Regions from separate parts of the Homo sapiens genome. Here region 2 is linked to region 1. Evidence: fine-mapped expression QTL. A gene starts in region 1. The other region holds a variant in brackets. All regions are shown on one strand. Distances are between the middles of the regions.

Region 1 (5,376 bases):
CATTTTTCAAAGGAACCTAGTGATGCCTTTTTTCTGTGGGTTGTCATTAAAGGCCACTGTCTGCATATCAGTAGCCAAGAAGCAAACATCGTATCTTTGATGAGATATATGAGGGTGACTGGTTGGGTAGCAAAGGTAGCCCAGAGTCCTGATCACTCAACTGGGCTTTGGATCCCCTGGGGTCTATTCCTAGCTCTGCCATAGGTTCACTGTGTGTGAAAGAGGCACAAGGCAAGCTCTTCTTCTTGGGCTGGGGTCCCTCTTCCTGTTATAAATGAAGGCCACTGCAGCTGCTGTCATCCCAGTAACCATAGTAACAATGGATCATGTGACAGGTGTCTGATTCCCCATCAGACATTTTCTGATATTAAGTGTTCTTCATCCTTCCCCTTTAACCCCACCCCAGATCCTGTTATGAGTAGTGGCATTGATGGTCTCCCAGGGCAGCCGTTTGAGCATGGGAGACCTGGAGCTGACAGCATTAATTAAACCTCTATTTCCACAAAACATTTTGCATTGCCAGGCCCGGAGCCAAGAAAACCTCCCAGGGCAGCTCTTATGTGAGAGATTGCTAAGGCTGTCACCAGGGACTGCAGTGCTTCAGCTCTACAGTTTGCAGCAAATGGGGATCAGTAGGAAAATGTGCCTGGCATACAGCAGGCACACAATAAATACTTGTGGAAAAGTCAGTTTACTAAAATGGAGCTCATATCACAAATGGGATTCCTTCAAAACACTGGAAATTCTGCATAAGATGATCATATGAATTATTCCACGGTTACTGAGTGCCTGCTATATGCACCCATGGGTGATAACATGGAGACTCTAAAGATGTTAGCTTGTTGAAGGAATCCCAAGTCCATGGGGTGGCTGAGGCTCAGGGGCACATTGGGAAGTGTGTAGAGAGGAGTCTGGAAGGCTTAGCAGGGACCACATCACAAAGGGATTTGGATAAAGGTTGAGTCTCTTGGGTTTATTCTTGGAGAACCTTTGAGAGCTGTGAGTGACATGATCAGCTTTGTATTTTGGACACCTCCTTTTGATGTCACTGAAGGAAAGAACTAGAGGGAGACTATTGTTTTGATCAAATAGTGTTCTAGAATTTCTGAACCCAGGCCTTAAGACAACTGGCAGCTTCTGCTTCATTCCTCTTAGAATCCAGCCAGCATGCTGTGAGCAGCTCCAGCACCATGGAGAGGTGACATAGAGGACAACCAAAATGCACCAGCTGACAGCCCCATTGTGATCCCAGTGGCAGCCAGCACCTACTGCTCACCACGTGAGTTCACCATTGCACCATCTGCAATGGTGTCTGGAGAGCTGATGTCCCAGTCCAGCTGAACCCCTAGATGACTGCAGTCCCAGAAGACAACATGTTGAGCAGGAAAACCACCCAACTGAGCCCAGCCAACCCATGAAATCATGACAAGTAACACAATAACTGGTCTAAGCCAGTAAGTCATCGGTGGGTTTTTATGCAAGTGTAGATAGCTGAAAAACTGGAGGACGGGTGGGTTCCCAGGTGGTGGTCACAGCTACAGCTCAGAGGAAAAGGTCTGGCTGGAGAGGCTATAGATTTAGGAGACATTGGCTCATAGAAATGTGAAAGCTCTGTTGTGGATGAAATCACCTACATCCCTTTTCACACATGCCCAGCACACCTAGAGCACAGCCAACCCACAGCAAATATCTGCTGAATTAAATTCAACACTCCATATAATGAAGAACACTAAAAAGCCACTGTTTTCTTGAGCTAAGACAGTCCTCATGCCCGGAATTCTAATTTCCCCTTGTTCTAAGCATAGTTTTATGCTCACCCTCTCTGAATCAAGTGTGTACTCCTAGCTGCTGCATTTTATCTTCTTTATCCTCCTAAGACAAGTCCGTTTGAGTGTGGACTTGGAATCTGCAAACATAAGCTTGGGTTCAGGGTGATGATTTTTCTACCTGTGCACCTCTCTTCTGAGCCTCGGCTTCCTCAACTATATATAAAGGTGCGAATACCTGCTGATTAGGTAATAAAGGTGAACTCTTGGGCAACCCTTAAGGGGATGCAGCTGTATTGTCCATCTTCAGCAGGACACAGGTACAGCCTCAACCCAAACATCCCATCTGTTCCCTCTACCTGTGGCCTGTTCCTCTTCCCTGTAAGAACCATCTCCCAGGTTGGGGAGCTGGGAAATCTCCAGCTTTGTGTTTGAAAAAGCTCCCGGAAGACCCAATTTTACAGCCAGCTTGGCCAGCTGCTGGGGTAGAAGGGTGAGCAAGGAGCTAGTAGTCTGGGAAAGTGACTCCTAGAGTCGCAGATCTGGTTGGAGCCCAGGTTTGTCCTCTAACACAGTGTGACCTCCGCAAGCTCCAGCACTTCTTGGGCCCAGTTGTCCCCTGTTGTACACAAAGCATTAAGAATGGCCTGAAACAACCCCAAGGCTCCTTCCACCTGGAAGGCTCCGGCTCCTGTTGGGGTGGGGGTCCGGTCACGTGTTGGCGGGGAGGGGGTTGCCGGTTGACGTGGCTGCGGGTCCAGCCTCCTCTGACGTCCTCGCAGCCGTCCTCCCTCCCTCCGTCCCCGCCCCTCTGGCGGCGGGAGAGCTGCTGGCTCGCCCGGATCCCGGGAGCTGCCTGGAGGCGGGCCCGGCCCGGGGAAGGTGAGCGGCTGCGGGACCCAGCCCCTCGCCGGGAGCGGGCACCATGGTGCTGTCGGTGCCTGTGATCGCGCTGGGCGCCACGCTGGGCACAGCCACCAGCATCCTCGCGTTGTGCGGGGTCACCTGCCTGTGTCGGCACATGCACCCCAAGAAGGGGCTGCTGCCGCGGGACCAGGACCCCGACCTGGAGAAGGCGAAGCCCAGCTTGCTCGGGTCTGCACAACAGGTGAGCGGGGGCGGCGCGCAGGCCCTTCCCGGGCAAGGCGGGGTTGCCGGGCAGCTGCAGAGGGGGAACTGGGGTGGGAGGCGGTCGTGGATCTTTGCGCGACAAAGCTTGGCGGGGAGGGGACAGCAGACGCGTTGGAGGACAGGTCAAGGAGTCAAAAAGGTAGGGGGATGGGGGAGGCTAGGGGATGGGGGAGACGAGACCTGAAGGAGAATTAGGGAGCGGCGAGCTTGTGGGGACTGAGAGAAGAATGGGGGCCAGCAGCGAGACCTAAAGGGAGGGGACAGGAAAGGGGACCTGGATAAGAATTAGGGCTGGGAAGGGTAAGAGGAGAGGGAGGCTGGGAGGGGAATCGCCAGGGTTAGGGAAGACCCTGAGAGGTACCAGAGAATGAGGAGTTTGCAGAATTGGGAAGAAGACTGGGGTCTGTGAGAGGGAGATGGGTGGTGGTTGTGGAGCCAGGGTAGGGCAAGTCCTGCCAGAGCTGAGAAGAGGTAATGCCTGCAAAGCCAGAGGGGAGGTGGCCGCGGTCCCGCAGGAGCTGGGAAGCTAGCTAGCGGGGTCTAGAGAGCTGAATCCGGGAGGAACCTGAAGGACTCTTCCCCACCCCCTAGCAGCTCTGAGCTCCAGCCAGTCAGAGGGGGTTGGTATGGCCTCCCCCAAGATGTCTCTGCAGACGTCCCTGGAGACAGGAGGGCTTTTATCCCATGCATTTGCTCATGGCCAGAGCCCCTTCGTGCAGGAAATAGCCCGTGCTCCCATTGTAAAGAGCAGCAGAAGGGGTCTGGGGAAGCAGTTTGGAAGGATTTCCCTGCATAGGCTGTGACCTCCAGGATGCATTTCCAAAGTACAGAATGCAGAATGTTCTCTGGAGAACCAGGAGGCAAAGAGTCCTGCTAGAGTGATTTGAGGAAGGATGGCCCTGGGGCAGGGGCATGACTTAAAGGACCTCCTAAAGGCCCTCTAGATCCCTTATAGACTGTATGGTTCCAGGAGTGGCACTAAAATGCTGTGACTCCATCTTCCTTTTTCCAATCAATAATTCAAAAGCTCAGAGGACCCAGTTGTGTGGGGCCTGTGTCAGTCACTGTACAGTGAGAGTGGAAAGGAAATGGCTGCTGTCCTTGAGGCACTTATAATCCAAGAACAGTGACATTGACAGTGGCTAAATAGGAGCCGGCTGCACAGCAGAATGTGGGACTTGGGACGATCTGGAAAAGGGGAATAGTGGGCTTTCCACTGGCCAGGTGTTGGGAGTCCTTCTCCACAAGTCGTGGTCGGCCGCCTCTCAACCTTCTTTCCTGCCCAACACACTTGAGGAACAGCCACTCTTCTGCCTTTCAGTGATGTCTCTCCAGGCACCGCCCCCTCCCCTTCCTAGAGAGAACCACTGGGAAACTAGTTGGTGTAAATGACCTCTAGGGTCTCTTCCAACTCTTTGTCTTATTGATGACCAGTAGCCCACAGAACGGCTGATCATCTGTTAAAGAAAAACCAGGTTGTGTCTCTCCCCTGCTTCAAATCCTCCACAACTTCTCACTGAGCTTGGAAGAGGTCATAGCAAACCATGACATAGCATACACTGTGTGCCAGGCGCACTGTTCAGAGTACACTAATTAATGTGTTTCTTGACCCAGTGAGGGAGCCATAGAATGATCCTAACTTAAAGATGAGGAAACTGAGGCTTAGAGAAGGTAACTGACTTGCCTAGAGCTGCACAGCTAGAGAAGTTTTAGAGCCAGACTCTAGCTGAGCTTGTCTGATTCTGGTGGCCACACTATTAGCCACTCCTCTCCACCCACTCACCTGCTTTAACATGGAAGGTGCCTGCCTCTCCAGCCAAGCTCATGCCAGTTTCTTTCTTCATCAGCAGTCTTGGCTTCCCTGGATTTACGATCATTCTTTTAAAACACCAAGCCCTTTTCTGCCCCTTCATTTTTCTCTGGCCTTTCATACAAATGGCTCCTTCTCATCCTTCAGGTCTTTTTCCATTTAAAGTCTCAGGGAGGATTTTGCCTACTGACACATAAAACAAAACACCCTCTTCCTGTTATTCTCTCCCATATTGTTTCTAACAAATCCTTTTATGGCACTCTTTACATTAGGATGCAATCTTTCATATTCACTTACTGGTGTATAATATTTATTCCCAGCACCCTCTCAGTGCCTGGAAAGTAGTAGGTGTCCAATAAGAAATTGTAGATGAATAAAGTCATCTCAGGGGTCATCCAATGGGGATTATCATCTTCAAATACTGGTGCATGCACCATGTCTTTGTAACCATGTGCAAGCTCAATAGGGGCACAATAAATATTTGTTGATACATGATACCTGCCCATCCACATTCCCTTACCTGGTTCCCTCAGTGACAAAGATGTGGGCAACTTGGGGCTGAATCTATGGGTGTGAATGTGTTGAAGCTGAGATCTCACAATGACTTGGTTGCTGTTGTTCTCAGATTCATTCAGCCACTGGCCCAGATGAAGTAAATAGAGAAAAGAC
Region 2 (5,376 bases), 70 kb after region 1:
CTAAAGATCAAAATCTTTTAAAAAATGGGGGCTCCAGTGGGGACAGGGGAGGAAGGTAAATAACAGACTACAAAAGGTTGACAACCACTGGTTAATCTTACTAAATGATTTTAAGGTAAGGAGACTGAGGCTCAGAGAGGCCAAGCAACTTGCCCAAAGTCACACAGCTAATAAATGGGAGATGGAGCTTTGAGTCCTATGCACGTTTCCCACTGTAACTCATGGCTCCTATGTGGGCATGTAAAGCACCAACTCGGCAATGCCCAGAAAACCTTTAAAGTTCTGTCAAACCCTCAGAATCTATGGCCCTCGCCCATTCTCACTGAAACAACATGTGCGACATCCAGCCCACCACCCTACCCACCTCCAAAAGGTGGGATGAGGGAACACCTGCCGAGGAGTGAAGGTGTACAGATCAGAGGGCAAGAGGAAATTAGTTGACGTTTTAGGGTTCTGAGCTACACAAGCACCTAGGAAATTTGTAGTAAAAAATAAACTTCTTTATGTTATGGTTTGTCTCAAAAACAAGGGACAAAAATCAAAGTCTGTCTGATTGGTGTAGCCCAATGAATTATATCTGGAAAAGTCCAGGGGAAACAAAAATTCACAGAAGAATTCAGATGGATAATAAACAAATGAAAAGTATTCAGCATCACTAATAACAGAAACACAGCGTAGTACATTGTCTCATTGGCACAGATTTCTAAAAGATGATAATATCTCTATTGGTAAAGGTGGTAAGAAAGGTGTCTCCTGTACTGATGATGCAGAATTAACAGGTGCAACCCTTTAGGAAACAATTTGGCAATATGGCTCAAGAAACATAAGTTATGGATGAAGTATGCAAACCCGGCATACCAATATGCTGACTTGTATCATTGTGTATAGCAGTACAAAGGCAAAACATTTAAATGTCTAATACTAGATAAGATTTCGTAAATGATGTTACATTTATATAATGGAATGCTATTCATCTATAGAAAAATGTTTTCAAAGAATCTTTTATGACATGGAAAAATGGTGTTGAAATAAGATAGTGTGAGAACAATAGGACTGGAAGTAGACTATGGTTCCAATAATGCTTTAAAAACAAGCCCCAGTAAACGACTTGAAGGAAATATACCAATGTTTTAACAGTGACAACCCCTTACAGGTGGATCATCTTTGTAATTTTGCATACTTTCAAAGTTTCCCTCAATAAGCAACTATTACTGTCACGCACCTCACTCCTGACACACATATAAAGAAAAGAAATATACGAATGCCAATTCCAGTATGAGGTGACAGTGGTGGCAGCTAGCAGCATGGAGAATCTACATTCTAGAGGTCCCAGGGATGGCACCAGCTGCCCCTCATCTATATCCTGCCTTGCTCATCTGGAGAGCCTGGGAGGAGGCTGTTGCCTTCCAAGGAGGATCACTGGAGTCCAGGGAACAATCCATTCTGGCAACAGGATGCTGCAAGACCTCAGAAGGAGTAAGACCAAGGCAGATGGGAGAGCAAATGCTGGCTTTGGCTGCTTCAACCTTTTGAGAGAAGCAAGCCACAGGCTCCACCATGGAGGTGTAGAACTTGCAAGATTTACGGTGCTTAGATCCGCCAGAATTTGCATCTTGTCCTAGGTCTGTGTTCTCTGTTAGCCCCAACACATCGGTGTTCTTATCACATCGGATATAAGCATCGCTATCCCTGAGTAGTGAAGACCACAGGGTGATTTCCACGCACCCAGCCAGGATGTTATTAACAAAGGACTTAAGAGAAAGGAAAAGAGCCCCTTTTCCTTTAATTTGGAGTGAGAGAAGTCACTCCAAATTAATAATTCCCAATCTCAATTCTACAACTGTGAGTCAGTCTTTTCTCCATAGCTGAGATTTCTTCTGAATATGCAAAATATTTCCAGTCCCCAATTTAGTGAGAGTCTAGGATTTGACATCCAAAAATAATCAACCTTGCGGTTAGCACAGAATAGAAGTTGTTCCAAACTTTCCTGCTCCCAGATACAAAAGGGAAACCATTCATTCGTCTTTTTTCTCACAAGACTCACTTGAATCATAGCACTATGATTGGAGAATACTGTCTTCTCCTTTTTTTCTTCCAGTTTCTAAACAACCACCAACCTCTAAAAGCTAGAATTATTTCTCTGACACTTGACATCAAGAGAAAAAGCTAGATGAGAAATACATTCCTATCTGGGATTTATTTATTCAAAAGAGCAACTTCTAGGGTGTGTCAAAAGGTTTAGAAAGACTCAAGTCAATTTAACTTTCCATCTTCTGGTCTTTTTCTATCCATCAAGAATCAATATTTGGAAAGCTAACCTCAAGGCGTTGTATAAATCACAAAGTATTTTCAAAGGCAGATCAATGCTTATTCAGATTTTGTTGTATTTGTTGTTCTGAAACTTAGCATTTGAAATACAATGTATATGGCAACTCTTGGTGAATCACAACCCATTCCCCTGACAAGATGTTTATGTTATACCATTTAAGAGGTAAAGCTAAATGAAGCCAGCTAGGTCCCCAGACCTGTTACCTCTGATTAGATCTCCTGCTTTTAAGTGTTTTGCCTTAACACCTGCTGGCTCGACCACCCCCCAGAACCCTTCTGTCCCCATTCACAACAACCCCTTTATGAAGAACTGTGCCTGTTCCATTCATTACATGGCTGCAGAAATCAGAAGCCCTCCCCAAGGAGTGGAAGGCTACCAGGAGGGGCAAAATCTATCCACTGTGGCTGAGCAGCTCTTTGCAAGGAGGTTTGAAG[A/T]GTTACCAGGTCACTACCTCTTGAGAGAAGGCACAGAGAATGCCTGGCTGAGACTGTTCTGCAAATGCTAGTGCTTATTGAGGCATTTCAACTCCAACCCACAGAATTTGGGACCTTTGGAGCAATCAAGGGGAAGGTGGTGGTGCTGCTGATGGCGGTGGAGAGCTCTGGACTAAACCTGTCATGATGATCCTGGATTGTTTTTATTCCAACCTCCCAGCTGACCTTGGGGACTGGATAGGTAAGTACTAAGACAACAATTCTCAGACCTCACCCACTGTGTCTTATCAAGTGCATCATATTTTCTAGCTGGGTCAGCACATGACTATTGTTTCTAACGCAAAGAAAACATAACACAGGGCATCCATTTTGCTGGAGGGAATTGACTAGGCCAGGCTCAGACACTATTGCATAGTGGGTATCTTCAATACAAAGGAAGCTGCCCCAGTTAAGGAGGCAGAACTAGGAAAAGACCGACTGAGAAGAGGCTGGGCTCTGTGTTCTCACATGCATAGGTCTCCGGGCTAGGAGGGGCTTTGGGTCACACATCCACCCACCAGATGGTCACCTGGTCATGGCTAGAGGCCTCCCTCTTCCAATTCATTTCTGTCTCTCACCCAAGTTTCCTCTTCCTGTTTTAATGTGCTAGCCCAACAATCCCCACTGAAGCCAAGAAACAGAAACTGAAAATCTTTTCCATCCCAAGTTGACAAGTCCTCACTGTCCCTTTTGCTCTGACTTCCATTTCAGTTTTACAGCTTCCAATTTGGCTCCTTCCCTCCCCAGGAAGAGAGAGAGCAGCCAGCCAGTCACTGCTTCATACATTGACCTTGGGAGAGAAGGCCCTGGGAATGGTTTCACGACATCTTTGCATCTCTCGGAAATTGGGTAGTCCTCCATTTCTATGGCCATGCTTTTTGGCCAAGAACTGTGGAGGATGGCAAGTTAGAACCTTCTAGAAAGGGGATCTGTGGGCAAGACTAGGGGATTTCCTGCCTGAGAGAAGCTCTCTGAGACTGGTATTAAGCCAGGGCAATGCACAGGTGAGGAGGCTTCCTCTTGGCAGAGGAGGCAGCTTTGGTTACTTTGAGAAGCCTCAGATCTAGGTGGGCAGAGCCTTGCCAGTGCCAGACACACAGACACCTGGATTGGTGGGGAGGGTCATGCCTCCAGGTGGCCCCTAAAGTGCACTGGCACATGGACAGCCCCTGACCCTTCTAAAGCCTCCTGTCCGAAACGGTGATTGTTTTTCCAGAACTTCTCGCTTACTTTTAGGGAACAAAAGGTAAAATTGACTTAGCAACACCTCACTTTTGAGCAGAGAAATGAAATATAACTGAGTGGTTTCGTGCATGCATGCCCTTCCTTTCCTCCGAGGGCCTGGCATGGTGCTGGATACAGGGAATCTGGCAGTTTATAGAATCAGGGAAATCAAGGGGCACTTGAGCCCTTCTCACCAACCTGCTTTTCCTTAAACATCTAACCCCTGCTTTGGGGTCCTCGAGGTTTTCACAGGAAACGAAGAAAGAGAATACACACCAAAGAAAGATCCTGGACACTGGGTGTGTTCAAAGAGTGAGATTGATTTCTTTTTATTGCCATCTTAACAAAAATACTTCGGAAGGCAATCTTTGATTCCAGCATCGGAGGCCGGGCAATTCCAGGCAATAATTAAGCCATCAGGCTGTTGGACAGGAGAGTGTTCAGTTTGAGGGAAGCAGGAACCCCCAAAGAACCACAGAATGGGGAGATGGAGCCAAAGGCACAGGGACATTGCAGTCACCTTCCATTCTCCCTACGTGGGACAAAGCTTGGCTTGGGTTTACAAGCAGCGCTCCAGGAACAGCCTTGGAAGGCACTAGATGCTGCAATCCTCCCAGCTCCCACTATGGCTGGGGGCAGGATGGGAGGGTGGGGGGTTGTTGGGTGGAGGGGTTGGCTGGGGGACTTCTGCTGGGGTCAGCTTCAGGTCAGGGAAAAAAAAGGACACAGAGCTGAGGTGCACCCAGGTCAGAGCTAAGCTTGTATCTGCCACCTGCCACTTCCCTCTCTAATGCTAAGAACCCAGTTTTCTCCCCACACTCCAACATGAAACATGAAGCTAGAGGTGTATGTAGCTAGTGCGTAGGCAGCCCGAGCAAGCAGAGGCAAGGCATGCTGGAACCTGGAATGGGACATGAGCCCCACTGGGCTCTGGATTCTTTTAGAAGCCAGGGAAGAGGTTGCCCTCCACTCCTGAGATCTGGCCCTGCCTCTCCAAGCCACTGGCTATGAGCCATAGAGCCAGGGCAGGGTGGGAGAATCACCTGCTAAATGCTAGGTGCCTCCCACCTCACCCAGGACAGCTGAGGCAGAAGCAGAGATACAGGGGGCAGAGGCCTGGCAAGGGGCAGAGGCCTGGCAAGGGGCAAGACCTGCCCCCTGCCTCCTCTTCCCACTACTCCAGATCTGGCCTCTGACAGGGGAGCTGGGAAAACCGATACCCTGGCTTCCAGTCCTGGCCCTCTCACTAACTGGCTGTGTCATTTGTCTTATACAGATGATGATGATAAAAATGATCATAATAATACCTGACTTGGCTGTCTTGAGCTGACTGTCCTGAGCCCCCACTGA

Which allele goes with the higher level. Alleles are on the strand shown, and positions count from the first base shown. SD is a standard deviation of normalised expression in the study named.
In carriers of allele T in region 2, the expression in thyroid of the gene that starts at base 2,558 in region 1 tends to be higher than with A alone (large effect, 1.0 SD a copy in GTEx).

The links.
Region 2: its variant is fine-mapped to the expression of SYT13 in thyroid (GTEx, PIP 0.97).

The regions. Positions count from the first base shown.
Region 1 is chr11:45,283,523-45,288,898 of GRCh38, reverse strand. SYT13 (synaptotagmin 13) reads left to right here and starts at 2,558. Exons shown (of 6, transcript NM_020826.3): 1 at 2,558-2,874. The coding sequence starts at 2,692. RefSeq lists an enhancer at 2,377-3,163.
Region 2 is chr11:45,213,695-45,219,070 of GRCh38, reverse strand. All of the region lies in intron 5 of PRDM11 (PR/SET domain 11), which reads right to left. Among named protein-coding and RNA genes, the nearest start is that of PRDM11, 70 kb to the right of the region's middle. RefSeq lists enhancers at 1-65, 5,127-5,376. The variant A/T (reference allele first, on the strand shown) is at 2,764.